Linked DNA regions of Homo sapiens. The protein of the gene in region 1 purifies or fractionates together with the protein of each later gene. This does not show direct contact. Each region holds a gene or a part of one and is shown in the gene's direction. Other genes may lie near its edges.

The links.
Region 2: the proteins of COPS7B (region 1) and CUL4A purify together in Homo sapiens (affinity purification with mass spectrometry; 9 studies listed by BioGRID and IntAct, with this or other methods). This does not show direct contact.
Region 3: the proteins of COPS7B (region 1) and DCAF1 purify together in Homo sapiens (affinity purification with mass spectrometry; 3 studies listed by BioGRID, with this or other methods). This does not show direct contact.
Region 4: the proteins of COPS7B (region 1) and CUL4B purify together in Homo sapiens (affinity purification with mass spectrometry; 7 studies listed by BioGRID and IntAct, with this or other methods). This does not show direct contact.

What each region holds. Positions count from the first base shown.
Region 1 is NC_000002.12:231,796,416-231,803,553, forward strand, and holds part of COPS7B (COP9 signalosome complex subunit 7b), read left to right. Parts: intron 1-2,443; coding exon 2,444-2,549; intron 2,550-4,492; coding exon of another isoform or gene 4,493-4,522; exon of another isoform or gene 4,523-4,686; intron 4,687-4,724; coding exon of another isoform or gene 4,725-4,792; intron 4,793-7,138. UniProt on the Homo sapiens protein: Component of the COP9 signalosome complex (CSN), a complex involved in various cellular and developmental processes.
Region 2 is NC_000013.11:113,254,477-113,261,614, forward strand, and holds part of CUL4A (cullin-4A), read left to right. Parts: intron 1-216; coding exon 217-322; intron 323-476; coding exon 477-649; intron 650-6,130; coding exon 6,131-6,283; intron 6,284-7,138. UniProt on the Homo sapiens protein: Core component of multiple cullin-RING-based E3 ubiquitin-protein ligase complexes which mediate the ubiquitination of target proteins. As a scaffold protein may contribute to catalysis through positioning of the substrate and the ubiquitin-conjugating enzyme.
Region 3 is NC_000003.12:51,489,896-51,497,033, reverse strand, and holds part of DCAF1 (DDB1- and CUL4-associated factor 1), read left to right. Parts: intron 1-253; 5' UTR 254-300; intron 301-4,520; exon of another isoform or gene 4,521-4,645; intron 4,646-7,138. UniProt on the Homo sapiens protein: Acts both as a substrate recognition component of E3 ubiquitin-protein ligase complexes and as an atypical serine/threonine-protein kinase, playing key roles in various processes such as cell cycle, telomerase regulation and histone modification.
Region 4 is NC_000023.11:120,557,963-120,566,046, reverse strand, and holds the start of CUL4B (cullin-4B), read left to right. Parts: upstream 1-5,084; 5' UTR 5,085-5,408; coding exon 5,409-5,964; intron 5,965-6,148; exon of another isoform or gene 6,149-6,246; coding exon of another isoform or gene 6,247-6,268; intron 6,269-8,007; coding exon 8,008-8,084.

The sequences.
Region 1 (7,138 bases):
CCTGGGAGCTGGGGCTTAGTGAGCCGGAGAGTGGAGCTACATTTGTGATCACAGCTGTGTGATAACAGGAGTCATTTCAGGCCTCCTGGTGCCTTGGTTGTAAAATAGTTCTTTCCTTAAATGCAACTGGGAGCTATTTAAAAGTGGGCTATAAAATGCCCAGGGTTAGCAGGTGGAGCCTATGTGTCCTAGCTGTGTGAGGCTAGTCCTGCCCTTTCCAAACTCACGCTCAAAGTTTGACCAAACTCAGGAAGGCTAGTGTTTGTAAGATTCTTTCTTTGTTTTTATTATTTTTTCTATCCCTGTTGAAGTTAACATGTTTATAAGATTCTTCGGATAAAAGAACTTACGTTCAAAATCAGTAACATATTGGGCTAATGTTTGTAAAACACCGTGAGGGACATGGAAGACAAGGAGTGGGTCATTTTAACTTGGAATACAGACTCATACAAAGAATATCTGATAACTATACTCTGGTATATAAAAAGCATTGGGACATTTGTGTTTTCTCTGTTTTAATGGAATTTGATATTTGTAAGAGCTGTCTCACATTCTACGAGGATTCACTGTGGAGTGATTTAAATTATTTGGGGCTTATAAAGCCAGATGGACTGATTGGAGAAGTTTTAGCTCAGTTTTGAAGGAAGGCCAGGGTTAGAGTATACCTGGAGGTGAGGAGAGTGTGTTCCCAGGCAGGCACGTGGCATGTTGGAAGCCATGAAGCAGACCCGGTGAGCTTTGTACACAGGTTCGGGAGGGAGAGAGAATCTCTGCTCATCCCCGAGAGAAGCATATCCAGAGAGGAGCAGTGCCACTTTGACTCCTTGGGGCCTGATGTCCCCTGAGTTTCCCTCACTTCAGCTACTTTTACACCCCAGGACATGTGTTGCTCACCCCTCACCCCAAGTTCTGTCCCAAATATAGCCCCAAACACCTTCTCTATACAACATCTGCCACAAGTGGAAGTTTTCAATAGCTTACAAAACTTAGAATAAATAAGAAATAAACTTAGAAATACCCCAACACAAAAATGGTCTGGCACACAAAATCTAGTTTCTGAACCTGCCAAAGTTGGCTGTCCTATTCTGTTTTTGAGATGGCTGACACAGCTTTTTATGTCCATAGTCTGGTTTCCTGTTTTTAAGCCCCCAATATGTTTGACATAGAGGTGCCAGACTAACTGGTTACCATGGGATGTTTACTAGTAGAAACTCTTACAACTCATGTTTAGGCACTGGAGGTAGATTGAAACAAAATTCATAGGCTGAGGGCTACCACATATATGGCAAAATGCTCACACTGTTGGATCTTAAGTGGAGGGTATGGGGATATTCATTGTAGTCTTTCAACTTTTTCATTTTTAAAAAAATTAATAGTGGGGAAAATAGGAGGAGGGGTATGGCAATTAGGAAGTAACTTAAACTTCTGAGAAAAGGCGGAATCTTCAAAACAGGATGCTTTTAGGAAATCTTTTTTTGTTTGTTGTTTTTTGAGACAGTTTTGCTCTTGTTGCCCAGGCTGGAGTGCAATAGTGCGATCTCAGCTCACCGCAACCTCTGCCTCCCAGGTTCAAGCGATTCTCCTGCCTCAGCCTCCCTAGTAGCTGGGATTACAGGCGTGTGCCACCAGGCCTGGCTAATTTTGTATTTGTAGTAGAGACGGGGTTTCTCCATGTTGGTCAGGCTGGTCTCGAATTCCCGACCTCAGGTGATCCGCCTGCCTCGGCCTCCCAAGGTGCTGGGATTACAGGCATGAGCCACTGCGCCTGGCCTAGAACATCTTTTTTTTCTGTTGAGAAAAGGATTACTCAGTGCCATCTATAAAATCTATTCTACCTTCTTTTTTTTTTTTTTTTTTTTGCGGCAGAGTTTCGCTCTGTCACCCAGGCTGGAGTGCAATTGCGTGGTCTCAGCTCACTGCAACCTCCGCCTCCCGGGTTCAAGTGATTCTCCTGCCTCAGCCTCCCAAGTAGCTGGGATTACAGGCACCCGCCACCACACCTGGCTAATTTTTGTATTTTTAGTAGAGATGGGGTTTCACTGTGTTGGCCAGGCTGGTCTCGAACTCCTGACCTGGTGATCCACCCACCTCGGCCTCTCAAAGAGCTGGGATTACAGGTGGGAGCCACTGCACCCGGCCTGTCCTACCTTCTTTAATCGTATGTGCTACAAAACCATCTTCCATGAGATACAAAGTTGAAAATTAAAGCTGTATTCTAAGAAACTAGCCCCAGACTACCATATTTGTCTCCTAATGTCCTGCATTATGTATTTAGAAGTGCTTGTCTTTGGGAAGGAGTGAACGGGCAAGAGATGTGGCAGAGGGAGTATTAAAGGAGGTCCCTGTAAGATACTGGGGAGAGCTGTTGGGGAAGAATATTTCTGAGCCTGGAAGAGACTTCCCAGGCCATTCTGCAGCTCAGGGCTGGTTTTCTCCATTGTAGGTGTGATGGCTGTGAAGCAGTTCTACTGGGCATCGAGCAGCAAGTTCTGAGAGCCAACCAGTACAAAGAGAACCACAACCGAACTCAGCAGCAGGTAGAAGCAGAGGTAAGGAAGGAAAGGAACATTTGTTTCTCTCTCCAGGCATACCTGTTTATTCGTTTGCAGTGTTTATGTTTTTGTTTTGCGAATCTTGGTGTAGATGAAACAAGCAGTCACCAACAAGTGGGCCTGGGCTAGGTGCTGGGTTACAGGGATGAGTGTGACACGGCTCCTGCTCTTGGTGTTCTGTCTCTTTTTTCTGATTCCTGGTCAGCATAGGGTGATCAATCAGGCTTGGAGAACAGAGAATGTTGTAGTTTCAGTACACATGTACTTTGCAGCTATAGAGCAAAAGAAAATGAGTTTGGGGATGGATCTTAAAAATGGATAGAAGGATGGTGGTAAGTTACCAGGTGGAGTGGAGGGAGGGGTACAGCTGGGCAGGGGCATGTGGGGCTTCAAGGCCCTGGGAGTGTTCTGCTTCTTAAGTTGCGTGGTGGGCACATAGTTTCATTTTATTCTTTCTCTGTGAACTGTACATATATATTATAAATGTGTAAAATGCATGACATGTTTCATACGGAAAGAAGAAAGGGATAAAATTTGGCAGATGAGCTGCAAGTGAAGTAAAGAGGATGTAAGTGTGGTTTTAGTGACACCTGGTTGTTGAGGAAACTTTTAGCTTCTTGGACAGATGTAGGCCCCAGCCTTTGCGTTATGGGCATTTGTGTACCTGTAACCTGACACATGAAGTGACCTCACTTCACAATTTATTTGGAGCCCTGCACTGATTTTCCTTAGCATTGGAAGTTCTTTTCTAGTGTGAATGGAGTTTGAAGTATTAATGATGCTTAATGAATTTTGAAAATCAGGTGTCTAAGAGTGGCGGAGTGGGACCCGTAATTCCAGCTAAGAAGCATAAGAGATGAGTAGATGGTGCCTTTCAAAGGGGGATTTGTGAAATTTGGAGTGATTCTCTATACTGTTATATGCACTCCTTGAAAATAAAACCTGTGTCCTATTTGTAAGACGAGCGTCTTGTCTCATGCCTAACCCATAGTAGGTACTCAAATGTTGAACTGAATATTTCTGGCACACCATAAAAGTGTGTCAGTGGACTGCTGAACTCTGCTTTTCATGAACTTGAGCTAATTTTTTTGAATACACACACACACCACCCTATATACATATACTCTGTGGATGTTCAATTCATAGACCATGTTTAATCCGACTAGCCAAGGAAGTATGAGGCTGGGTGCAGTGGTTCACACCTGTAATCCCAACACTTTGAGAGACCGAGGAGGAAGTATTGCGTGAGTCCAGGAGTTCGAGACCAGCCTGGGCAAGGAAGTGTTAACTATATTTAACATTAGTCCAAAGCAAAGACAATTAGGAAAATAAGCTTGCTGCTTTTCTAATAAGCTGTGCAACAACCCTCTTGATGATGGTGGCCTTTTCTCTGACTTGGGATTGAGGTCTGAACAAAGTAGGAAGGGCTAACCGCTTTCTCCTTTCTGTTTATTCTTCCCTATAAATCAAACTCTGTACAAAATGAGGTTGGGAGGCTAACCACACTACCTAATCTTTGGTATCAAGGTCATTAACAAAGATGAATGATACTTGTTTTAGAATTTTGAACTGTTCAAGTTTATTTTCATTATAAATAGCATCAGACAAAAGAAAGGCGGGTGTGCACAGAGCTATTGTAGACACTTGGCTAAAGTTTGAGGCACACCGTGTAGTTACACAACAGTGTAGACTCTTTAAATTTTGGTTATTTAAACACAGAGGGTGGGTGTGTGCACGAGCAGAGCCTGGTGCTGCCAGCAGGTGGCGGTAAGGATTTAAGTTTGAGAAAAAGAAATCTGAGCAAAAGGCCAAGGCCACCTCCACCACCAATTAAAACAGTCCATTGACGTAATAATCTTTTAGAAAATCTGAACCAGACCAATATGGTCTGTTCCCTGAGCATGGCCAAAGCTTAGGACCTTGTCATTTTTTCCATTTAGCAAATGCATGATCTGGCTGCTAAGTGTTGAAGGCTGCTTGCCACCTACTTGAGGCACACAGAAGATACTCACCAAATAGCTACTGACTTGAAAGGAAAAGAAATCTACAAAGAATCAGGGTGATTCTGTCGTATTCTGTTTGTATTTATGCCTCTGTTACCCTTGGCCTAACTTTTAAAAGCCAATTTTGTCAACTGATTGGTGATCTTTTCTTTATTTGTCCTTAAATTAGATTGCTTGTTTTCAGAGGGAAAAACGTGATGTCCCCCTCCTGAATCTTATAACAACAGCTTTCTTCTGGTGAGTTGTAGCTTTAAGAGCCCTCCTTCTTAATGAAGTCAGCCCTATCACAGACTGCCGAAGAATATTCTCTCCATTTAGGCTTTTGTGGAAATAACCCATATTAGTTCCTAGTTCCAGCATACCTGGGGGACCATTATGAGCTGTTTCATTATTTCTGAGGAAGCACTGTGGTGGGGAGGTAATACTTAGAGCATTACAAAGCACTTTCACATTTAAATTTGATTTTGGAAAGTATTTTCTTTTTGAGACAGAGTCTCTGTCACCCAGGCTGGAGTGCATGGAGTGCAGTGGTGCAAACACAGCTCGCTGCACCCTCAACCTCCTGGGCTCAAGCAGTCTTTCCACCTCGGCCTCCCAAGTTGCTAGGACTATAGGACTACAGGTGTATGCTACCACACCTGGCTGATTTTTTTTCTTTTCTTTTTTTTTTTTTTTTTAGGGAGAACTGGGTTTTGCTGTATTATTCAGGCTGGTCTTGAGCGCCTAACCTCAAGCTATCCTCCCACCTCTGGCTCCCTCTTTGTTGGGATTACAGGCGTGAGCCACCATGCCCAACCTACTTTTCTTTTTTTCTTTTTTGAGATGGAAATTCACTCTGTTGCCTAGGCTGGAGTGCAGTGGCATGATCTTGGCTCACTACTGCAACCTCCGCCTCCTGGGTTCAAGCAATTCTCATGCTTCAGCCTCCTGAGTAGCTGGGATTACAGGTGCCCGCCACCACGCCCAGCTAATTTTTGTATTTTTAGTAGAGACGGGGTTTCGCAATGTTGGCCAGGTTGTTCTCCACCTCCGGACCTCAAGTGATCCGCCTGCCTCGGTCTCCCAAAGTGCTGAGATTACAGGCCTGAGCCACCGCGCCCGGCCTCATTTTTCTTTATATTTGGATGTGCCTATGTCTGATGTTAGGTGGAATGTTAATTTATAACTATTGCTACATTTACAAAGTAGGCTGTGTTCCAGTCATGGAGGTCGTAAAGTGTAACTGGACAAAGTAAGCTCTGTTTTCCATTATGTAGAAAATCTCCTAGGAGTTAGTGACAATCTTGAGATTTATACAATGCACCAAAAGTATGCTTCCTGGTACCTCTTGGAAAGGGACTCTCCATCACCCAGTTCTCTTTTTCTTTGTAGCACTTTTCCAGTTGTGCACTGTGTTTCCTCTCGTCTGCCTTTGCTTTGCCCCTCAACTGAAGGAAGGTTTCCTGCCCCAGAAAGCTCTTTCTCCTTTTGCCTAAATATTTAAGGTCTCTGATGGAGCTAGGCTGCATTTTTGCTAGCAGTGCAATCTTACTTGAAAATTTCTGAGGTTCATGTTTTGAGGAGCCTGTAAGCCAGGCCACTGGAGGAAGAAAGTCATAAGGAACTCTACCAAATTTAGGTAAAAGAAGACAAGTCTGTGGTGATGATATTTGTTGTCAGTTGAAGGGTGACTGTGGAAGAGGAATTGGAATTCTTAAGAAAGTCTACGAGACCAGAATGGGTTTAATTGGTTGACCTACCTGGGTGGCCAATTTGGAGTCCTAGAAGGAGCTGTCTGCGGTTACAACTGCCCAGCTACTGGAAGAAGCTAGTTGAATTTTAAGATCCCCTTCCACTAGGAGAGTCTGTCAGTGCTTCAGAAGTCTCGTTTGTGAGTTGTGTGTTGTAAATGCAGTGGTAAAGCTGACTTGAGCAAAGTGTCTCTGTAATGGATCCCAGTGTGAGGGCCATGGCCCTGCCCCAGCCCAGGCCAGGCCTTTGTGGAGGATAAAAGGCTCATTTCCTAGGCTTAGAGACACTTGCCCAAGAAGCCCTCTTTTCCTCTGCAGGATGTTTACATTTTGCCTCAAAGTGGTAACGACTGTAGAGGACTTAGATTTGTCAGCAGTCTTATTGGAGGAGTGAGGTGTGTGCATCTGAAACACAAAGGAGATGCAGTGGTGTGGGAGGCCATCGAAGAGGGAGAGGCACTGCCAGGCAAGTACAGATTGAAGGGTGGCAGATCAGTGTGGGCTGCAGCAGTCAGGGCAGTTTGTATGGACCAGGTGCTCAACTCTCCAGGCAGGATCAGAGGGGCAACCTGGGGAGGAGCGGTAACCCCCGGGGTGCATGAACAACAGAAGGGCATAGGGGGAATGACTGCTTCCAAGTGTGGTGTGGGGGACGAGTGTGGCTGAGATGGCTTGAGTGCAGGGCATGTGTTGAGGAGTGGGAAGGAAGGTACCTGATCTTGGTATTTCAGAACTAGAGAAAAAACCAAGTTTTTCCCTGGGCCAAGTCTTATTTCTTTTTATTGCATGTCAGGGTTACTGAGCCCCTAAAAAAGCTGAATGAGAGCAGTTTCTACAGGAGAAAATGGCTTGA
Region 2 (7,138 bases), on another chromosome or scaffold:
CCCAGCTACTCGGGAGGCTGAGGCAGGAGAATGGCATGATTCCGGGAGGTGGGGCTTGCAGTGAGCTGAGATTGTGCCACTGCACTCCAGCCTGGGTGACAGAGCGAGACTCCTTCTCAAAAAAAAAAAAGTTTGAGAGCAAAAAGAAGCTTCTTTTAATTTTTCAAAGATTGTACATGCACAGCTTCAGAGGTGTGATGAGGCCTTCTCTTCCAGGGGAAGAAGGAATTCCAGGTGTCCCTCTTCCAGACACTGGTGCTCCTCATGTTCAACGAGGGAGATGGCTTCAGCTTTGAGGAGATAAAAATGGCCACGGGGATAGGTACGAAAACTGCAGAGTGCATAGCTCCATGAGTTGTTCTTAAAGCATGTATTTGTTTTAAGATAAGACATAGACTTGGTAGCATGATTGGTTTACTGTTGTTGAGTCTCATTCGTTTAACGCCAGCCTTTGCCTGCATTTGCTTCCCATTCAGAGGATAGTGAATTGCGCAGAACGCTGCAGTCCCTGGCCTGTGGCAAAGCACGTGTGCTGATTAAAAGTCCCAAAGGAAAGGAAGTGGAAGATGGAGACAAGTTCATTTTTAATGGAGAGTTCAAGCACAAGTTGTTTAGAATAAAGATCAATCAAATTCAGATGAAGGAAACTGTATGTATAAACTTTCTCTTTTTACTTATAGGGGGTTTAGCAGGGAATCATTTGTTTTTGTAGTAATGTTTTTGGCTGTTAGAGGCCTGAAGCACATTTCTACAATAATCCAATTTCACTATGTAATGTTTATAAGAGTACTCATTTTCCTGTCGCTTTCATTAACTTCACATTCTCAGTAGGAAAGAAAATCAGAAAAAAAGCCACTTAATGTTATTCCTATTCACAAAAAAGTTGTGTGCTAAGCCAGAACTCCCCATGGTCATAGGGTTTCGAAAATTATCCACACTTTCTATGGTAATAGAATCTGATATGGTTCACTCTTGGTGTTGTACATTCTGTGGGTCTGGGTAAATGTATAATGTTATGTATCCACCATTATAGGATCATACAGGACAGTTTCATTGCCCTAAAAATTCTCTTATGTTCTGTCGCTGTATCCCTGTCTCCCTCCGAGCCCCTGGCAACCCCTGACCCTGTTACTGTCACCATAGTTTTGCCCTTTCCTGAATGCCGTACAGTTGGAGTCATAGTGTATATAGCCTTTTCAGATTGGCTTCTTTATTTATTAGAACGTATTTGAGGTTCACCGTGTCTTTTCATGACTGGGTAACTCTGCTTTTTGCACTGAAGGATTCTCCGTTGTCTGGATGCATCACAACTTATCCCTTCACCTACTGAAGGACATCTGGTTGTTTCCAAGTTTTGGTGATGATGACTAAAGCTGCTATAAACATTTCTGTGCAGGTTTTTATGTGGACTTAAGTTTTTAACTCCTTTGAGGGTGCACCTTTTATAGTGGGCAAAAGTGAGAAGGTCTATCAGTTCTTTCTCCCGAAGGTAACCACTACTGCCCTTTTTGTTTGTGGTCACAGCCTTTTTCTGTGGTGTGAGTGTATGTAAACTTTTTTTTTAGTGGGATCACTAAGCCAGGCACAGTGACATGCACCCATAGTCTCAGCTACTCGGGAGGGTCGCTTGATCCCGGGAGTTTGAGGCCAGCCTGAGCAATGCAGTGAGACCCCAAACTCTACAAAAGAAAAAACACCTGGGATCACTGTACATATGGCACCTGTCAGGGCCTTCCTGTAGCCAGTTTTCGTTGCTGATCGCAGTCTTCTCCTGGCCAGGACTTGTTGCAGGAGCACAGTGCCGGTTGTGTAGACCCACCAGGGCTGGCAGTGCCCTCGGCCACAGGCACTAACATTCCTCCACTGCCCCTCCTGAAAATAAGATTACGTTCAACACCCTGGCACAGACATTTCTGTGCACTTGTTAGATTGTTTCTTTAGTGTGATTCTTGCTCTGGAGCTGCTGGGTAAAATAATGTGTACTTGTCTTAGTTTGCTCTTTTCCAAGTTGAAGTCTGGCAGATTTCACCAGAGCACAGTGTCTGCCCCCACCTCCACCTGTCCTTCGCTCACCCTGTTCTGAGCAGCCCAAAGATAGTTTGTTGCAGTTTTCATTTTGATTTCTGATTCTTTACAGCATCTTTCTACCACTCAGTAGTTTATACAAATTATATAATCTTTCTAATGCTCAGTTTCTCATATTTAAAATAGACATACTACTACCTCAAGTTGTGAGAATTAAATGAATCGTTTAGAAAGCTCTTTGCCACACACCTGTAAGCACTTCATACATGTTGATGCTGCTCTTTTTATGCTTAGCCATTTGTATTTTTCTTTTTCTAATTGCTTTTCAAGTCATATGCATTCATTATAATGTTTTTTCTCTTACTGATTAGTAGGTTTTCTTTATATATTAAGGATATTAATGCTTTGTCCCTTTTTTTTTTTCGTTTTTTTTTTTTTTTTTTTTTTTGCATTTCACTCTGTCGTCCAGGCTGGAGTGCAGTGGTACAATCTCGCTCACTGCAACCTCCGTCCTCCGGGTTCAAGCGATTCTCCTGTCTCAGCCTCTCGAGTAGCTGGGACTACAGGCATGTGCCACCACACTCAACTAAGTTTTCTATTTTTAGTAGAGACGGGGTTTCACCATGTTGGCCAGGCTGGTCTCAAACTCCTGACCTCAGGTGAGTCACCCATCTCGGCCTCCCAAAATGCTGAGATTACAGGCGTGAGCCACCATGCCCAGCCTGCTTTGTCATTTTTGACAGATAATTTTGTTGTTTTTATTGGTTTTTTTTTCACATAACAGTTTTTAAGTTCTCAAATATAGTCTCCTTTTCTTTTATGGTTTCTGACTTAACGTGTAATGCTGTATTAGGCCATTCTTGTATTACTATAAGGAAATACCTGAAACTGGGTAATTTATAAAGAAGAGAAGTTTAATTGGCTCACGGTTCTGCAGGCTGTACAGGAAGCATGGTGCCAGCATCACCTCAGCTTCTGACGAGGCCTCAGGAAGTTTCCAGTCATGGTGGAAGGTGCAAGGGGAGCAGGTGTCTCACGTGGCAAAAGCATGAGCAAGAACAGGGAGGGAGGTGCCCCACATGTTTAAACGACCAGATCTCATCACCAAGGGGAGGGCCCAAGCCATTCATGAGGGACCTGCCCCCACCCACCCGGTCCCATCTCCAACACTGGAGACCACATTTCAGCATGAGATTTTGAGGGGACACATATTCAAAACCATATCATTGGCCTAAGAGAGAAATTCCCTTAACCAGAGTTTTAAAAAACATTTATACTATGTTATTTTTCTAGAAGTTTTTACATTTAAATCTTTCTTTTCATGTTGCAGAAATTATTTTAGTATCTGAAAACAGTCTAACTGCCCCCATCCTTTCCAAAACCAAATTTAAAATATCATCCTTGAACAAGTTATTTGAATTATCACCTTATTATGTATCAAATTCATATAGGTCAGTTTCTCAATTCTCTTCTATAAATTCTGTGTCTATTTCATAGCCAGCCATTTTTTTTGTTTTGTTTTGTTTTGTTTTTTGAGACAGTGTCGCCCAGGCTGGAGTGCAGTGGTGTGATCATAGCTCACTGCAGCCTCAACCTCTTGGGCTCAAGCGATCCTCCCACCTCAGCCCCAGGCATATGCCACCACGCCCAGCTAAATTTTTGTATTTTTTGTAGAGATGAGGCCTTGCCATGTTACCCAGGCTGGTCTTGAACTCCTGGGCTCAAGCAGTCTTCCTACCTTGACCCCCCAAAGTGCTGGGATTACAGCCGTGAGCCACCGTGCCCGGCACCAGGTTCTTTTAATTAATGTAGCTATTCCTATAACTTTATTCTTCCAATGAACTTGACAATAATTGTATCACGCCTTTGCTCCCCCAAATAAGAACATTGACATTTTTAATCCATATTGCATTAATTTACAGAGCTTTTATCTTTATCATATTAAATCTTGTGATTCATACATATGTGTATATATGTAAATACATACAAATCTTTTTCTCAGAGCTTTCTAGTTTTCTTCTGTAAGTCTTGCATATTTCTTGCTAGTCATAAATTTTCATTCATTCAACAAATACTTATTGAGCATCTGTGGTGGCCCAGGTCCTCTGTGAAGCACTGAGAATTCATCCATTAACAATAAAGAATAAGTCCTTGTTTCTAGGAGTGTTCAGTCTTTTCCAGCAGAGAGGTAGCAGAGGATCACACACATTGACTAACTTGTAAGAGTGGAGGAAAATGTTAGGATAGAGAAGTGCAGGAGAGTCTAATTAAATACTGTCGTCAGCCAACGCTTTCCTGAAGAAGTGACTAGCTTTGCTCAGGAACTGAAAGAAGGCCTCTGGCTGCAGCATCGTTGCCAAAAGGGGAAGCTGAGCCAGACAGGCCTGATCAGGGAGCCACAGCTGGACCCTCTGAAGATGGCTCAGATCCATGAAGCATTTGGAAAACCACTAGAGTTTTAAGCAAGACAGGCTAATGAAATGCTGATATCTTATAAAGGGGACCTTTTTTCTTTACATTTCTGACGGTTTTTATCAGAATGTATGTATTAATGCTATTTGTCTTTGTATATTTATTTTATTTCCAGCCACTTTACAAAACTCTTTAGCTTTGAAAGTTTTTCTGTTGATTTTCTTGGATTTTCCAGCTCATCTACAAATAATGATCGTTTTGTCTGCACCTTTTCAATATACCTCTTTAGTCTGTTCCTGTATTGCATAGTTAGAACCTCTAAAGTAATGTTTTTAAGGAATAGCAGTGCAGCTGAGCTTCCTAATTTTATCTCTAGTTCAGAGGATGTTAACTTTTTGGGGGTCATGGATCCTGTTGAAAATGTGATGAAAGCTTGGAGTCTCTCCCATCCTGAAGCATACTTGCCTCATATGTATGCACAGACCTTCCCCCAGCCCTCATTTCAACTGCAGATCCCCATCAGGTTCCTGTTGGACTAAGGTTAAGTTGTCTCTAGTATTTGCTGTTTGTTTCTGATAACCATGTTTTATCATGTTCAGATGCTTTTTTATTCATCCTTGTATGCTAATGTTTGTTTTAAATCAAAAAATCAATTTTATCATGCCTTTTCAGCATCTATCAAGATGGTCATGTAATCTAACCTTTCAACTGCTACAGTGCTCTCACTTATATTCACAGATTTCCTAATGTTGATCAACACTTAACATTTCTGGAATATATCCTGATGGTCATTATGTTTTGTTTACTGTGCTGCTAGTTTTAATCTACATCACACATAGAGTTGTTGCAGCTTTCTTATAAGGAAAATAACTTTTAAAAATATTTTTTAAGTTTTGGTTTTGGAGTTTTGCTATTCTGGGAAGGTACCTTTTACTACAACAAGTAAACATGCATAATAAAGTAGGATTCATCCAATGTCTGACCTTTCTTTGCATCAAAAGAACATTTCCGGCCAGGCACGGTGGCTCACGCCTGTAATCCCAGCACTTTGGGAGGCCGAGCCAGGTGGATCACGAGGTCAGGAGATCGAGACCAGCCTGGCTAACATGGTGAAACCCTGTCTCTACTAAAAATACAAAAATGAGCCGGGCATGGTGGGGGGGCACCGTAGTCCCAGCTACTTGAGAGGCTGAGACAGGAGAATGGCGTGAACCCGGGGGGCGGAGCTTGTAGTGAGCCGAGATCGCGCCACTGCACTCCAGCCTGGGTGACAGAGTGAGACTCCGTCTCAAAAAAAAAAAAAAAACCATTTCCCATCAAATTCGGTAACATCAGGTCATTAATATTGAAATATAGGCCAGGTGTGGTAGCTCACACCTGTAATCCCAGCACTTTGGGAGGCCAAGGTGGGCGGATCATCTGAGGTCAGGAGTTCAAAACCAGCCTGGCCAACATAGTGAAACCCTGCCTGTACAAAAATACAAAAAGTAGCCGGGCATGACAGCAGGTGCCTGTGATCCCAGCTACTCGGGAGGCTGAGGCAAGAGAATCGCTTGATCCTGGGAGGCGGAGGTTGCAGTGAGCCGAGATCACACCATTGCACTCTAGCCCAGGCAACTGAGTGAGACTCCATCGCAAAAAATAAAAAGAAAATACAGTTTTACACTTAACTTTTTTTTTCTTTTTTATACAGGTTGAGGAACAGGTTAGCACCACTGAGAGAGTGTTTCAGGATAGACAATATCAGATTGATGCTGCTATCGTCAGAATAATGAAGATGAGAAAGACTCTTGGTCATAATCTTCTAGTTTCTGAATTATATAATCAGCTGAAATTTCCAGTAAAGGTAAATGTAACATTAGCATAATTAAATTTGTAGTATTTGCTAAACAATTGACAAAGCATGTTTAATTCTATGTTCAGTCATATCATTTGACCTGCATTATTCATGGTGCTTTGTGTATACACTGAATGTAGAAAAACTGGCAAATGTGAAGCTCTTTATTCCAGGTGTTGCTCATTGCCACTGCAGAAATGATAGAGCCCTAAAACTCTCCTTCCCAGGGATGGTGCGCGCTTGTTCATATTTTCAGGAAGGGAAGAGGTAGATGGGACATGGAAAGCTGAACACTTTTCTCATAGTAGTAGCGGTCAAGGTTACATCACAAGATTTTAAGGAAATGATAACAATAACTAACTTACTCAGCGTTTACAGCCTACACCGCGTTTTCCACCACGGTAATAGTCTACTGTTGCTGTTGCTTATGAAAGTCAGCCCAGGCCTGTCAACCCGCGTTGTTTTCAGAACTGAGATTTACTGTCCTGCCACGTGTGGGATGCAGGATAAGCCGGGAAAGTATTATGAAACGTTTTTTACATGTATTTATCAACCCAGGAAATACTGAACTCTGATGACGCCTGGCCTCTCAGGGACAGGACCGGCCACACGTGCTTTGGAGGGAAAGTCCCCAGATTCCATGTTGTGCAGTTTGAGCCTCCCATTCCATCAAGGGAATAAAGTTGAGATGCACTAAATAGTCGAACACTTAAGAGTCTGGTGGAAGTGCCACTGTCCATCAGCCCACATTTGCCCCCTTCCCTGCAGAGGTGAGGTGCCGTCCTCAGGGCCCTGGGAAGCTCCAAAAGCACCATCAGGTTCACTGCCCCTTCCTCCCACCAGCTGGAGCAAGTCTCCTGTTGC
Region 3 (7,138 bases), on another chromosome or scaffold:
CATGAGCCATAGTGCCTGGCAAACAGTTGTTAATATTATGCCATATTTTCTCTATTTGTGTGTGTGGTATCTATATATATATTTTGTGGAATCATTTGAAAATAAGTTGCAGGCCTGTCATCCCTAAATACCCTAGCAGATGCTTGTTAGGATAAGAAAATTTTACATAAGTATTTCTTGAGGCTTTATATTATCCCATCATGGGGACAATATTGTCATTTAACCCCGCACAACAACTGTTTCCATCTTGCAGATAAGGAAATTGAGATTTGGAGAAGTTAAATAACCAAGACTTCACAGGTATGTCAGCAGAGTTGGGATTTGAATCCTTGAAACCTTTTTTCTACCTAGTACTAGCTGGTCTTGGGGACCTCTCTGAGCTAGTTTCCTCATGTGTGAAAAAGGGTAGGATGGTTGTGAAAATTCAGAATAATGTAAGTATGGTAAATTACTTAGCTCAATGTCTGTCCCATACTAGATATTCACTAATTGGTAACTACCGTGTCACCATTGGACAGACCATCATTTCTTCATAGCACTTAAAGGAACTCACTTAAGAACTTGAGTAATGCACCCTTATTGTCTTGGGCATAACAAGGTGAAGATGACTGTTTTCTTTGCTCTTGTTGTGCAAGCTGGAGTGCAGTGGCGCGATCTCGGCTCACTGCAACCTCTGTCTCCTGGGTTCAAGCGATTCTGCTGCCTCAGCCTCCGGAGCAGCTGGGATTACAGGCGTGTGCCACCATGCCTGGCTAATTTTGTTGGTATTTTTAGTAGAGATGCGGTTTCACCATGTTGGCCAGGTGGTCTCGAACTCCTGACCTTGTGATCTGCCGGCCTCGGCCTCCCAAGGTGCTGGGATTACAGGCGTGAGCCACTGCGCCCGGCCTAATTTTGTATTTTTAGTAGAGACAGGGTTTCTCCATATTAGTCAGGCTGGTCTCGAACTCCCAACCTCAGGTGATCTGCCTGCCTTGGCCTCCTAAAGTGCTGAGATTACAGGTGTGAGCCACTGTGCCCGGCCTTTTTTTTTTTTCCTTGAGACAAGGTCTCGCACTTTTGCTCTGGCTGGAGTACAGTGGTGCAGTTATGGCTCACTGCAGCCTCCACCTCCTAGGCTCAAGCAGTTCTCTTGCTTCAGCCTCCCCAGGTAGCTGGGACTACAGGTTGCAGTGAGCCAAGATTGTGTCCCTGCACTCCCGCCTGGGCAGCAGAGCGAGATTCCGTCTCACAAAACAAAAAACAAACACAAAAAAACGAACATTGAAGTAAGTACTACTACTACTGATTTTTAAATTTTTTTCATAGAGGCAGGATTTCACCATGTTGTCCAGGCTGGTCTCAAACTCCTGGGCTCAAGCGATCTGCCCACCTAGGTTTTCCAAAGTGCTGGGATTACAGGTGTGAGCCACCACACTCAGTTGCTGACTGCTTTCATTGATACTATGTTAATTCACATTGCTATTATTAGTTAAGTCTGTTACAAGTTTATATTTTCCTTTATTTAGTCTGTTACAAGTTTATATTTTCCTTTATTTATGTATTTAAATAATAAAGACAAGGTCTTACTGTTACCCAGGCTGGTCTCAAACCCCTGGGCTCAAGTGATCCTCCTACCTCAGCCTTCCAAAGTGCTGGGATTACAAGTGTGAGCCACCACGCCTTGCCTTTATATTTTTTTATTCTTTATTATTCTTAATATTTTTTTTGAGATGGAGTTTTGCTCTTGTCGCCCAGGCTGGAGTGCAGTGGTGCAATCTCGGCTCACTGCAACTTCTGCCTCCCGGGTTCAAGCGATTCTCCTGCCTCAGCCTCCCGAGTGGCTGGGATTGCAGGCGCCTGCTGCCACGTCCGGCTAATTTTTTGTATTTTTAGTAGAGACAGGGTTTCATCATGTTGGCCAGGCTGGTCTCGAGCTCCTGACCTCAGATGATACACCCGCATTGGCCTCCCAAAGTGCAGGGATTACAGGCGTGAGCCACCACGCCTGGCCTATTTTTTATTTTTTTAAATAATAGAGACAAGGTCTCACTAAGGTTTATATTTTCCTTGGGCAAATGGTTATTCCCAAAGTTATAATTATCTTCAGGCATAGATTAGTTGGAAGTTCTGAAAATGATACCAGAAGTATATATGTATATGTTTCTAAGTTGAACTCTAAAATTTTAGTGTTTTAGGCCAGGCATGGTGGCTCATGTCTACAATCCTAGCACTTTGGAAGGCCAAGTGGAGAGGATTGCTTGAGCCCAGCAATTTGAGACCAGCCTGGGTAACATAGTGAGACCCTGTCTCTACAAAATAATAAAAATTAAAAAATTTTAAAAATATAAAATTTTAGTGTTTTAATGCCCTTGAATTAATCTTTATTAGAGGTAGTGTTTTTTAAAAAATCATGTCTTTATGTGCTCTAGTAGGCTAACTGCTTAAGTTATCTAAGAAGCAGTCTCTTCTGGATCATTTCTTTTCTCATTAAAAAATTGTGGTAAATTTACGTAGCATAAAATTAACGACTACCCATTTTGAAGTGTACAAATCAGTGGCGTTTGTAGATTCACAGTGTTGTGCAACCATTATCTCTTTCTAGTTCTAGAATATTTTTATCACCTTAAAAGGAAACCTCGGCCGGGCGCGGTGGCTCACACCTGTAATCCCAGCACTTTGGGAGGCTGAGGCGGGTGGATCACGAGGTCAGGAGATTGAGACCATCCTGGGTAACACGGTGAAACCCCGTCTGTACTACAAATACAAAAAAGTAGCCGGGTGTGGTGGCCGGTGCCTGTAGTCCCAGCTACTCGGGAGGCTGAAGCAGGAGAATGGCATGAACCCGGGAGGCGGAGCTTGCAGTGAGCCGAGATCCTGCCACTGCACTCCAGTCTCTGGGCGACAGAGTGAGACTCCATCTCAAAAAAAAAAAAAAAAGGAAACCTCATACCCATTTAGCAGTCACTGCCCATTTTCCCCTTTCCTCAAGTCCTTGGCAACTACTAGTTAGCTTTCTGTATATTGATTTACCTATTTCAACTTTTTTTTTTTTTTTGAGACGGAATCTCGCTCTGTCGCCCAGGCTGGAGTGCAGTGGCGCAATCTTGGCTCACTGCAACCTCCGCCTCCCAGGTTCAAGCGATGCTTCTGCCTCAGCCTCCTGAGTAGCTAGGACTACAGGCGCATGCCACCACGCCCGGCTAATTTTTGTACTTTCAGTAGAGACGGGGGTTTCACCATGTTGGCCAGGCTGGTCTCGAACTGTTGACCTCATGATCCACCCGCCTTGGCCTCCCAAAGTGCTGGGGTTACAGGTGTGAGCCACCATGCCCAGCCTTCAATGTTTTATATAAATAGAATCATACAATATGTGCCCTTTTGTGTCTGCTTTCTTATTGTTTTCAAGGTTTTTCCACATCTGTAGCATGTTACTACTTCATTCATTTCTATGACTGAATATTCCATTGTATGCATATACCACATTTTGTTTATCTCTTCATCTGATGATGGACTTTTGGGTTGTTTCTACTTTTTGGCTATTGTGAATAATGCTACCAAGAACATTTGTGTATAAGTCTTTGTTTGAATTCCTTTTTTTTTTCCCCTGAGATGGAGTTTTGCGCTCATTGCCCAGGCTGGAGTGCAATGGCGTAATCTTGGCTCACTTCAACCTCTGCCTTCTGAGTTCAAGCGGTTCTCCTGCCTCAGCCTCCCCAGTAGCTAGGATTACAGGCATGTGCCACCATGCCTGGTTAATTTTGTATTTTTAGTAGAGATGGGGTTTCTCCATGTTGGTCAGGCTGGTCTTAAACTCCCGACCTCAGGAGATCTGCCCGCCTTGGCCTCCCAAAGTGCTGGGATTAGAGGTGTGAGCCACCACACCCAGCCTTGTTTTCAGTTCTTTTGGGTATATATCTAGTAGTGAAATTGCTGGGTCGTATAGTAATTCTACATGTGACTTAAAAAAAAAAACCTGCAACTTTTTGAGAGAGTCCCAAACTGTTTTTTATAACTACTATACCCTTTTACATTTCTTTTATTTATTTATTTATTTTTTTGAGAGGGAGTCTTGCTCTGTCACCCAGGATGGAGTGCAGTGGCGCGATCTCGGCTCACTGCAAGCTCCACCTCCCGGGTTCACGCCATTCTCCTGCCTCAGTCTCCCGAGTAGGTGGGACTACTGGTGCCTGCCACCACGCCCAGCTAATTTTTTGTATTTTTAGTAGAGATGGGGTTTCACCATGTTAGCCAGGATGGTCTCTGTCTCCTGACCTCGCGATCCGCCTGCCTCGGCCTCCCAAAGTGCTGAGATTGCAAGCATGAGCCACCGCGCCCGGGGCCACCCTTTTACATTTCTACAAGCAATATGTGTTCCAGTTTCTTCACATGCTTGCTAATGCTTATATTTTCTCATTTCTTAAACTACAGTCATGTTAGTAGGTGAGAAATGATATCTCATTATGGTTTTGATTTGCAGTTCCTAGTGACTGATGTTGAGTATCTTTCATGCGTTTCTTGGCCTTTTTTTTGTTTTTAAGACAAAGTCTCACTCCTTTTGCCCAGGCCGGTGTGCATTGGGGTAATCTCGGCTGACTGCAACCTCCGTCCCCTCCGAGTTCAAGTGATTCTCCTGCCTCAACCTCCCGAGTAGCTGGGATTACAGGTACCTGCCACCATGCCCAGCTCTTTTTTGTATTTTTAGTAGAGATGGGGTTTCAACTTGTTGGCCATACTCGTCTCAAACTCCTGACCTCAGATGATCTGCCTAAAGTATTGGGATTATAGGCATGAGCCACAGCACTCGGCCCATTTTCGCATATACTGTGAGGCAAAGATCCAACTTCGCTGTTTTGTGGGATAATATCCAATTGTCTCACTACTTTTTTTTTTTTTTTGAGACGGGTCTTGCTCTGTCACCAGGCTAGAGTGCAGTGGTGCAGTCTCGGCTCACTGCAACTTCCGCCTCCCGCAGGTTCAAGCGATTCCCCTCCCTCAGCCCCCCCGAGTAGCTGGGACTACCAGTGTGTGCCACCACACCTGGCCAATTTCTTGTATTTTAGTAGAGATGGGGTTTCACCATGTTGGCTAGGATGGTCTTGATCTCCTGACCTCGTGATCTGCCCACCTCGGCCTCCCACAGTGCTGGGATAACAGGCGTGAGCCACTGTGCCAAGTCTCATCAGTACTTTTTTGTTTGTTTGTTTTTTGAGATGGAGTCTTGCTCTGTCGCCCAGGCTGGAGGGCAGTGGCGCTGTCTCAGCTCACTGCAACCTCCGCCTCCTGGATTCAAGCAGTTCTCCTGCCTCAGCCCCCCTGAGTAGCTGGGGTTACAGGCGCGCCACCATGCCTGGCTAATTTTTGTATTTTAGTAGAGATGGGGTTTCACAATGTTGGCCAGTCTGGTCTCGAACTCCTGCTCAAGTTATCTGCCTGTCTTGGCCTCCCAAAGTGCAGGGATTACAGGCATGAGCCACTGCACCTGGGCAGCACTACTTATTGAAATTACTTTTTTCCTATTGAATGGTCTTGGTACCCTTGTTGAAAATTGATCATAGATGTGAGTGCTTATTGCTGGATTATCAATTCTATTGTATTTGTCTCTGTGTTGATCCTTATGTCAGTGCCATGCTGTTCCATTTACTATAGTTTTGTAGCAAGTTTTGAAATCAGAAGTGTGATTTTTCCAACTTTTTTTTTTTTTTTTGGAGACATAGTCTCGCTCTGTTGCCTTGCTGGAGTGCAGTGGCGCAATCTTGGCTCACTGCAGCCTCCGTCTCCTAGGTTCAAGCGGTTCTCCTGCCTCAGCTGTCCCAGTAGCTGGGATTACAGGTGCGTGCCAACACGCCCAGCTAATTTTTGTATTTTTACTGGGGATGGGGTTTCACCATATTGGCCAGAATGGTCTCGATCTCTTGACCTTGTGATCCACCTGCCTCGACCTCCCAAAGTGCTGGGATTACAGGTGTGAGCCACTGCGCCTGACCCCGACTTTGTTTTTTTTTTTTTTTTTTCCAAGATTGTTGTGCCTATTCAGGTTTCCTTGCAATTACATACGAATTTTAGAATCAGCATGTCCATTTCTGCAAAAGATGTCATTGGGTTGTTTTTGTTGTTGTTGTTTTTTGAGACAGAGTCTCTCTCTGTTGCTCCCAGGCTGGAGTGCAGTGGCACGATCTCGGCTTACTGCAACCTCTGCCTCTTGGGTTCAAGTGGTTCTCTTGCCTCATTCTCCCAGATAGCCGGGATTACAGGCGTCTGCCACCATGGTCAGCTAATGTTTTGTATTTTTAGTAGAGATGGGGTTTCACCATGTTGGCCAGGCTGGTGTTGAACTCTTGAACTCAGGTGATCCACCCATCTTGGCCTCCCAAAGTGCTGGGATTACAGGCGTGAGCCACCATGCCTGGTTTGTCATTGGGATTTTGATAGCGATTGCATTTTATTTGTAGACCACGTTGGAATGTATTACCATCTTGATACTAACCCTTCTAATCCATGAACACAGAATGTCTTTTTGTTTATTTAGGTTATTTAAAATTTAGGTCATCATGAATTGACTCCAGCAATGTTTTGTAGTTTTCAGCATACAAGTCTTGTGTTTGTGCCTTTTTTGTTGTTGTTGAGACAGGGTCCCGCTATGTCTTCAATGCTAGAGTGCAGTGGTGCGATCTTGGTTCACTGCAGCCTCAACTTACTGGGCTCAGGTGATTCTCCCACCTCAGCCTACCGAGTAGCTGGGAGTACAGGTGCATACCTGGTACAGGTGCACACCATGCCTGGCTAATTTTTTGCCTTTTTTGTAAAGACTAGGTTTTGCCATGTTGCCCCAGCTGGACTTGAATTCCTGAGCTCAAGCAATCCACCCACCTTGGCCTCCTAAAGTTCTGGGATTAACAGGTGTGAGCCACCCTTCCCGGCCTTGTGCCTTTTAAATTAAATTTGTTTCTAATTATTTTATTATTTTTGGTGCTATTGTAAATGAAATTGTTCTCTTCATTTACTTTCATATTGTTTTTTGGCTAGTGTATAGCAGTACAACTGATTTTTGTGTGTTGCTCTTGTACCTTGCAACTTTGCTGAATTCATTTATTCTAATAATTTTTATGTGGATTCTTTAGGATTTTCTGTATACAGGATTATGTCATCTAGGAATAAA
Region 4 (8,084 bases), on another chromosome or scaffold:
GAAGAAAATGGACTGCCTGGGCCGGGCGCGGTGGCTCACGCCTATAATTCCAGCACTTTGGGAGGCCGAGGCGGGCGGATCATGAGGTCAGGAGATCAAGACCATCCTGGCTAACATAGTGAAACCTCATCTCTACTAAAAATACAAAAAAAAATTAGCTGGGCGTGGTGGTAGGCGCCTGTAGTCCCAGCTACTTGGGAGGCTGAGGCAGGAGAATGGCATGAACCCGGGAGGCGGAGCTTGCAGTGAGCTGAGATGGCGCCGCTGCACTCCAGCCTGGGTGACAGAGCGAGACACTGTCTCAGACAAAAAAAAAAAAAAAAAGTAAATGGACTGCCCTTTACCTAGCAGTTTTTTTTTTTTTTTTTTTTTTTTTGCACTCTGTCACCTAGGCTGGAGTGCAGTGGTGCAATCTCGGCTCACTGCAACCTCTGCCTCCCGGGTTCAAACAATTCTCCTACTTCAGCCTCCCAAGTAGCTGGGACCACAGATGTGCACCACCAGGCCTGGCTAATTTTTGTATTTTTAGTAGAGACAGGGTATCGCCATGTTGCCCAGGCTGGTCTCAAACTCCTGGCCAAGTGATCCACCCACTCTGGCCTCCCAAAGTGCTGGGATTACAGGTGTGAACCACTGTGCCCAGCCGTTTTTTCTGTTTTGTTTTGTTTTGGTTTTTGCTTTTTGTTGTTGTTTGTGTTTTTTTAATGCATTCTCAGAAACATCTTCAGATTCTCCTGGGCAAGCAGTCTCTCCCATTCCTAAGGAAAATCCCACCCATTGGATAGGAAGGCTTCCAGGAGTGTCTGTCTAGTGGCAAGCCACTGGTATGAGATATCTGGAGAGGACCTAAAGCACCCCAGATGGCTATAACTGTATGGCGTCCTACATTACACATCTTGATTCCCCAAGCACCCTGGGGAATCCCTGTGATCAAAAAGGGGAAATGGGTTACACTCTGCCTTTTTAGGGAGATGTCCACAGAAATAAAGGAATTGACATTGTAAAAGCTAGCTCCCTGTCTTTGTTTGTATTTCTTCCTTTACACATATACTTACCTTTATAAACAGCTTGGTTAAAGGTGGCCAATAATAACTACACTTCATGTGGCAACATTGTAAAGTTTAATTAATGTTTCTAAGGTATGAGTTGAACTCACAAGATGAAAGATCCTAAATATGGAATATGTGTTAAGTGCCCAGTCTGGTTTAGTCTGATAATGGCTATAATTGTATGGTGTCCTACATTACACATCTTGATTAGTGTGGCTCCCGTGAGTTCAACCTTGAAAATGTATTTTAATGTTGAGAATGTGTTTAACGTTGATTGGCAAACATTTGGGTGTACAGAATATACGCTTATGTTCTTCAACTAGCCTCAATTAGTTGGTTCTTGATGTAAAAGATATTTTACAAACCAACTTGGAAGGTTTTTGTTTTTTTTTGAGACAGACTCTTTCTCTGTTGCCCAGGCAGGAGTGTAGTGGCACAATCTCGGCTCACTGCAACCTCCACCTCCTGAGTTCAAGCGATTCTTCTGCCTTATCCTCCCGAGTAGTTGGGATTACAGGCACCTGCCAACGTGCCCAGATAATTTTTGTGTTTTTAGTAGAGATAGGGTTTCACCATGTTGGCCAGGCTGGTCTTGAACCCCTGACCTCAGGTGATCGGCCCGCCTCAGCCTCCCAAAGTTTTGGGATTACAAGCCTGAGCCACCTAGCCTTGTTTTTTGTTTGTTTGTTTGTTTTTTGTAACAAGGTCTCACTCTGTCACCCAGGCTGGAGTGCAGCAGTGTGAGCTTGGCTCACTGCAACCTCTGCCTCAGGTTCAAGGGATTCTTTTGCCTCAGCCATTTGAGTAGCTGGGATTACAGGTGAACACCACCATGTCCGGCTCATTTTTGTATTTTTAGTGGAAACGGGGTTTCACTATATTGGCCAGGCTGGTCTGGAACTCCTGGTCTCATGTGATCCACCCATGTTGGCCTCCCAAAGTGCTGGGATTACAGGCATGAGCCACCACGCGTGGCCAGATCTGTGCTTTTTAAAACCAACATGTAACTCAGAAGACTGAAGGGCTTAGATAACCATGTGAGATAGGGAACTATTATTACTAGAATGTAGTTAAATATTAACAGGACTCAGCTATCATTTAGGTTAGTAGAAAAGTTTATCTTTGTATGGCAAAAGCAGCTTTCTCTTATCTTTATGTCCATTCCCTTTCAGTTGCACTAATATTTGTAATTTTTTAAAATGGCTAGCACTTCATATACCCTCCTAAAGATTTTAACTACATGAATTAGAACAACCTTGTTCATTAAATCCTGAAAATGAGTCAGTTAATCCTCCCTTATAAAGACACAGCATTATTTTATTCACATGCAATGAAATACTCAATTCAATAAGCATTTACCCTGCATTTACAGTGGTTCAGCATTTTGTGAACTGTGAGACACGATAAAGGAAAGTTCAATGTATTAAGGTGTCTTTCCTGGCCTTAAGAGTTTACTGTTTCTATTTGGGCAGCAAGAACTATATGGTAGGCCCAGCACTTTGGGAGGCTGAGGCAGGCGGATCACTTGAGGCCAGGAGTTCGAGACCAGCCTGGCCAACATAGCAAAACCCTGACTCTACTAAAAATACAAAAAAAATTAGCAGGCGTAGTGATACATGCCTGTAGTCCCAGGTACTCAAGAAGGCTGACGCACAAGAATCGCTTGAACCCGGGAGGCAGAGGTTGCAGTGAGCCAAGATTACACCACTGCAGTCCAGCCTGGGCGACACAGCAAGATTCTGTCTTCAAAACAAAACAAAATGAAAAAAACTATGTGGTATATTCAAAACAGATAGGAGTGCTTCCATCTGTCTCCTTTCAGGCCCCCATCTCCCTTCTCAGCGGTTCTAAGTTCCATTAGAGCCTTGCTTTCAGCAGGCTGTCATCAAATAGCAATGATATTGTCTAATAATGCCAAAGGTTGATTTGCATTTTAATCAGGGACTTTTCAAGACACAAAAACAAGTGGGCCTGTTTAAACAAAGTTAGAAAGTTGATTTATTTGCAGGGTTCTGATTCACCTATCACAAGGTATACCATACAAGCTGCTTTTACTCCACTCACAATCCTGTCACCCCTGGTTTGTAAAAGCTCTGCTTGCTGGATTGTCTCCCTGCTATCTATGATCGCCTACAGAGTAGACTCCAAATTCTTGGCTTGGTGTGCCAGGCACTTTTGAGCCTCATCTTCCTTACTCCCAGCCAGACATCCTACTTCCCAGCCTCACTGCACTTTCCATGTTTCCATAAACAGGCCTGGCCCTTTCACTCCTTGCTTTGCCCTTGTTTCCGTTCCCCAGAATGCCTTTCATCCTGTTCCCTCTTCTCTTTTTGGCAACTCCCACTTTGAGACACAGCATAAACATAATCTCTGTAGAACTCTTCCTATTCCAGATTTCTCCCAAATTTCTTGTTTTGCCTCTTCTGACAGCACTTTGTATATATGTCATATTATTGTTATGGAAATTAGTTTTGAAACTATCTTCCCCTACTGGCTTCTCAAGGGCAGAGACCTTGCATAGTCTTACCATACATGCTAACTGAATGCTTTTGCAGTTAGAATGATCAACAGGTTGGCAAATTTAGTTTTTGATATTGTGTTACCTCCCTCTGAGAATGCCCCAAGGTTAAGTAAAAACTCCCAACAGGGAATTTACAAGGTTTATTGTTGCTAATTTAACCAAACTTAAAGATTTTTTAAATCAATAATCAATTGTAAAGCATGGGGTCATGAAACACATTAGTAGAAAACACTGACTTTTGCCGATATGGTTCTAAAATGTCTCCTTTGGGACAGCGTGTAAACTGAGATTTGGCAAAAGAAGGAAGTGGGTCTTAGCTTTGTTGGGTCTATAAATTACTGAGTTAAGGACTGATAGAGTGGGGGTTAGGACGATCCTGGGCATAGTGCTGGGTGGGTGAGGGGTTAGTTACCTTTCCATTTCTTCGCCTTAGAATACACACTTAATTTGGCCAGCCAGCTTAGAAAATGCTCCTGGTAGTAAGATAAAAGGATTTACAGCTACATGAAAGAGAAAGGCATCAAAATTCAGGCCTTATTCAGCCTTGGGTCTGTGGTGCCTTGAGATAAAAGAGAAACAATTTATACCGGCACCGAATTAAAAAGTCCTTTTCTTCCTATCTTAGCTCGTTTTCTTCTCCTTTCCTATCTTAACATAGGGACATTCCTCTCCAGCAGCGGGCATAATGGCATGATTATGTTTTCCTCTATTTAGGGTTACTCCCCTAGCCTTGCAACCACTCCTTATTCTTTCATCTCTTTCAAAGTTTCTATTCTCCCGGACCCTTACGTTTTATTCCGTCCCTCCCTCTCTCCTCCTCTTCCTCCTCCTCCGTTTTCCCAGCTAGCTCACTCCGCCCCTCGCCGTCACTACCTTCCCTCCCCCGAGGCTCCTTCCCGCTCCTCCCGCCACCCCCCCCACCCCCTCGCCTTCAGAAAGCTCCAATCAGGAGCTCCGAAGGTGTCTCGAAGGCCCGCCCCCTCCTCCTATCCACTTTTCTTCCCCCCAATTTCTCCCTCCCCCCTTCCCCCCCCCACTCAAGTCCTGCGGACCTGGGGGCTTCGGGATCTGGGCGCTATGAAAAGTGTCTGCCCAGTCACTTCCGGTAAGGGCGCTGCGGCGCGAAGCTTCCCGCGGGACCGTTAAGGAGGGAGTGGGAGTTCCCGGTGGGCCAGGGAAGGAAGGCGCTGCCAGGAAAGGGGATCGCGAAGGGGAGCGGGAGCAGGAGCGAACTAGCGCGAGCGTCTGGGGCACTTTAGCCGCCCCTTTCCAGCCGCCCCCTCACGCGCGAGCTCCCCCGCCCCCCGGGCGGCTGCAGCGCTTCCCTCACCCCCACTCCCTGAGGTTGACACCGCCCCTCCCTCGGCGCCGCGTGACCGGAAATGGCGCCATCTTTAGCCTCTTGTGCTATTGACAATAACAAGCCCTGGTTCTTTCCCCCTCCCCCTTTCCCCCAACCACAGCCTCTCCCCTCCCAGGGAGAGGGAGAAAAGGAGGAGGAGCTGCAGCCTCACAGACTCGCTGAGTCGCTCCTGCAGAAAGGGGGGGAGAGAGATCGAAAAGCAGGGGAGGGGGACGGCACGGCCGTTTACCTGTCTGCCTCCTCATTCGCTCTCCCCCCTCGTTCTGCTCACTCCTGGTGTCAGCCTATCCGCCTTCCCAAACCCTCCCATTCCCCCGGTGTAGCCCCCCCCTTCACTTTCCTTCTCGTCCTCTGTGTTTCTCCTCTCTTCTTTCTTCCCTTCCCCCTCTAGCATTGCTACCTTCTCTCCTACACGCACGCAGGCATATAAACGTAGGTTTTTGATGCTCCTCTGCCTGTTGACCCCGCTATTTTCATGTTTCCAACAGGTTTTTCTTCCCCCAGTCCCTCAGCTGCTGCTGCTGCTCAGGAGGTCAGATCTGCCACTGATGGTAATACCAGCACCACTCCGCCCACCTCTGCCAAGAAGAGAAAGTTAAACAGCAGCAGCAGTAGCAGCAGTAACAGTAGTAACGAGAGAGAAGACTTTGATTCCACCTCTTCCTCCTCTTCCACTCCTCCTTTACAACCCAGGGATTCGGCATCCCCTTCAACCTCGTCCTTCTGCCTGGGGGTTTCAGTGGCTGCTTCCAGCCACGTACCGATACAGAAGAAGCTGCGTTTTGAAGACACCCTGGAGTTTGTAGGGTTTGATGCGAAGATGGCTGAGGAATCCTCCTCCTCCTCCTCCTCATCTTCACCAACTGCTGCAACATCTCAGCAGCAGCAACTTAAAAATAAGAGTATATTAATCTCTTCTGTGGCTTCGGTGCATCATGCAAACGGCCTAGCCAAATCTTCTACCACCGTCTCTAGCTTTGCTAACAGCAAACCTGGCTCTGCTAAGAAGTTAGTGATCAAGAACTTTAAAGGTAACCAAGGCCAAAATCCATAATCACCTAATAAGGATTTGACACTCGAGGGGTCACGTGCTCTATTTATGTTAATATATTAAACAGTTTGGAGGTGGCCTAATGTTTTATGCATAATCAATGAGGTGGAGGGGAGGTCCTTTTTTGGTGGAGGGTTCATTTTCCGGGGGTGGTTAGGATCCTTGTGCTGAAGCATACACCGGGTGTTTCTGTGCAGTATTTTGAGGTCTTTTTCAACCTATTGTATTTAATCTGTTATTCCTTATAACACTGACAATCGGTATGATTGATCCGGATTTTGCAGGTGAGAAATTTGTATTCTAAAGAGGTTTATTTATTTCAGGTGCATAGCGAGCCTTGGCATTGCTGGGATTTTTATTTTTATGCTTCAGTAGGCCACATTATCCAATGCCTAGAAATGCAGGTAGCAATAGTGATCTTTTTATGCTCAAATAAGATTTATAATTAGATTTATACTGTATTCATGAAACTCATTTGGAAGGAATATTTGAAGAAAAATTTATGTTCTCTGCATTTCTTTCCAAAGGTAGGGTTTGAAAGTGAAAAACATTGTGTATACACAGAAGTAGTAACTCTGTGTACCACTAGTCTAAAGATAGGAACAATTACTACATCTATTTTTTCCATCACTAAAATGGATTTTAAAGTATCGACCTGCAGCTTTTAGGAAAATTTGTTCAGACCGTGTTTGAGATATGTGAGGAGAGTATTATGAATACATTGAGGCAAATATAAAATCAGCAATTTTTAAAAATGTATTTGAGCTGAATTAATTTTTATTTGTTGAATGTGTTTCTGTTTTTCTGACTTACTTTTTCAACACCCGTAACTGCCAGGTAATCAGTGCTACAGTGTTTATTAAATAGAGAAGTAAATGAATGAACTTAAGTAATATTTATGAGATAAGTGCTTTGTGGCTGAATATTAGTATTGAGAAGATTAGGTTCTCTATGCTTGTGTTTTTAACATTGTGTGGAAATCAGGAGTATGCTCTATTTTGTCTCAAGCAGAGGGCTATGGTGTTGTCTATTTTTAACCCTTTCTTTTTTATATCACTACCTTCCCATACCCAGGCTCTCAGTTTCTGATTTAATAGTAGAGCTTTCTGAAGTCAATATGAATTGTAATTGAGTAACGTTTTCATTATTTCACTTAAAAATATATGGATTTTGTAGCTAAAGATTTTTAAATGAGTTATGATCCTGGTTGCATTTTCAAATTGGTTTCAGAGATTTTTTTCTCTCCCTCCTAAAATAAAAGCATATTATTAAGGCATTTGGATATTCTAATTAAAACTTTTTTCCCCACACTCATTGCTAGTCAGTGAAGTTTAAAGCCTAGAGTAAGATGTTTCTTTCTATTCTGAAAATGCAACATGGTTTCTGGAGTCATTTCTTTCAGTCTTTAAAAATTTCACTCTGCTCGTAAATGTAGTTTAAAACCTGAGTTAAGATGTTTCCATTTCTATAGATGCTGCATAAATGTGGGGGTCAAACAGACCTGAATTAGAATCCCAGCTTTGCCATTGACTAGCTATGATGACCTTGGGCAAGCTTACTAAATGAGTTCCAGCCTCAGTTTCCTCGGTTGTAAAATAGATTCCTCAGGGTATTGTTGGGAAGATTAAGAGGCTTATAAAGTACCTTGCACATAGACAGTACTTTAAATCTCAGGTTAAAAATTCATGTCGACTTAGGTTTTACACATGATGAAATAAGATCAGGATTGTTATTTTTTATGGTCATTCTTGAATTTTTATTTTTTTGAAGCAATACAATCAATAGGAGAAAAACCTCACCTTCAATTTTAATAGGTGAGTCAAAATGACTTAAACAGTATTATGGCATTTCAAATTTTATTCTTTATATTAAGCTTAAATACAGTGGTTACTTTAATGATTAGGTGTAATAGTTATAAAGATCACAATTTACCCTAAAATTAGTAATGCTATTATATTTTATGAATCTTTGGTTACTGTATCTGACATGGTATTCTGATGCCAACCTTTTACATATCATCTAGATAAGCCTAAATTACCAGAAAACTACACAGATGAAACCTGGCAAAAACTGAAAGAAGCAGTGGAAGCTATTCAGAAT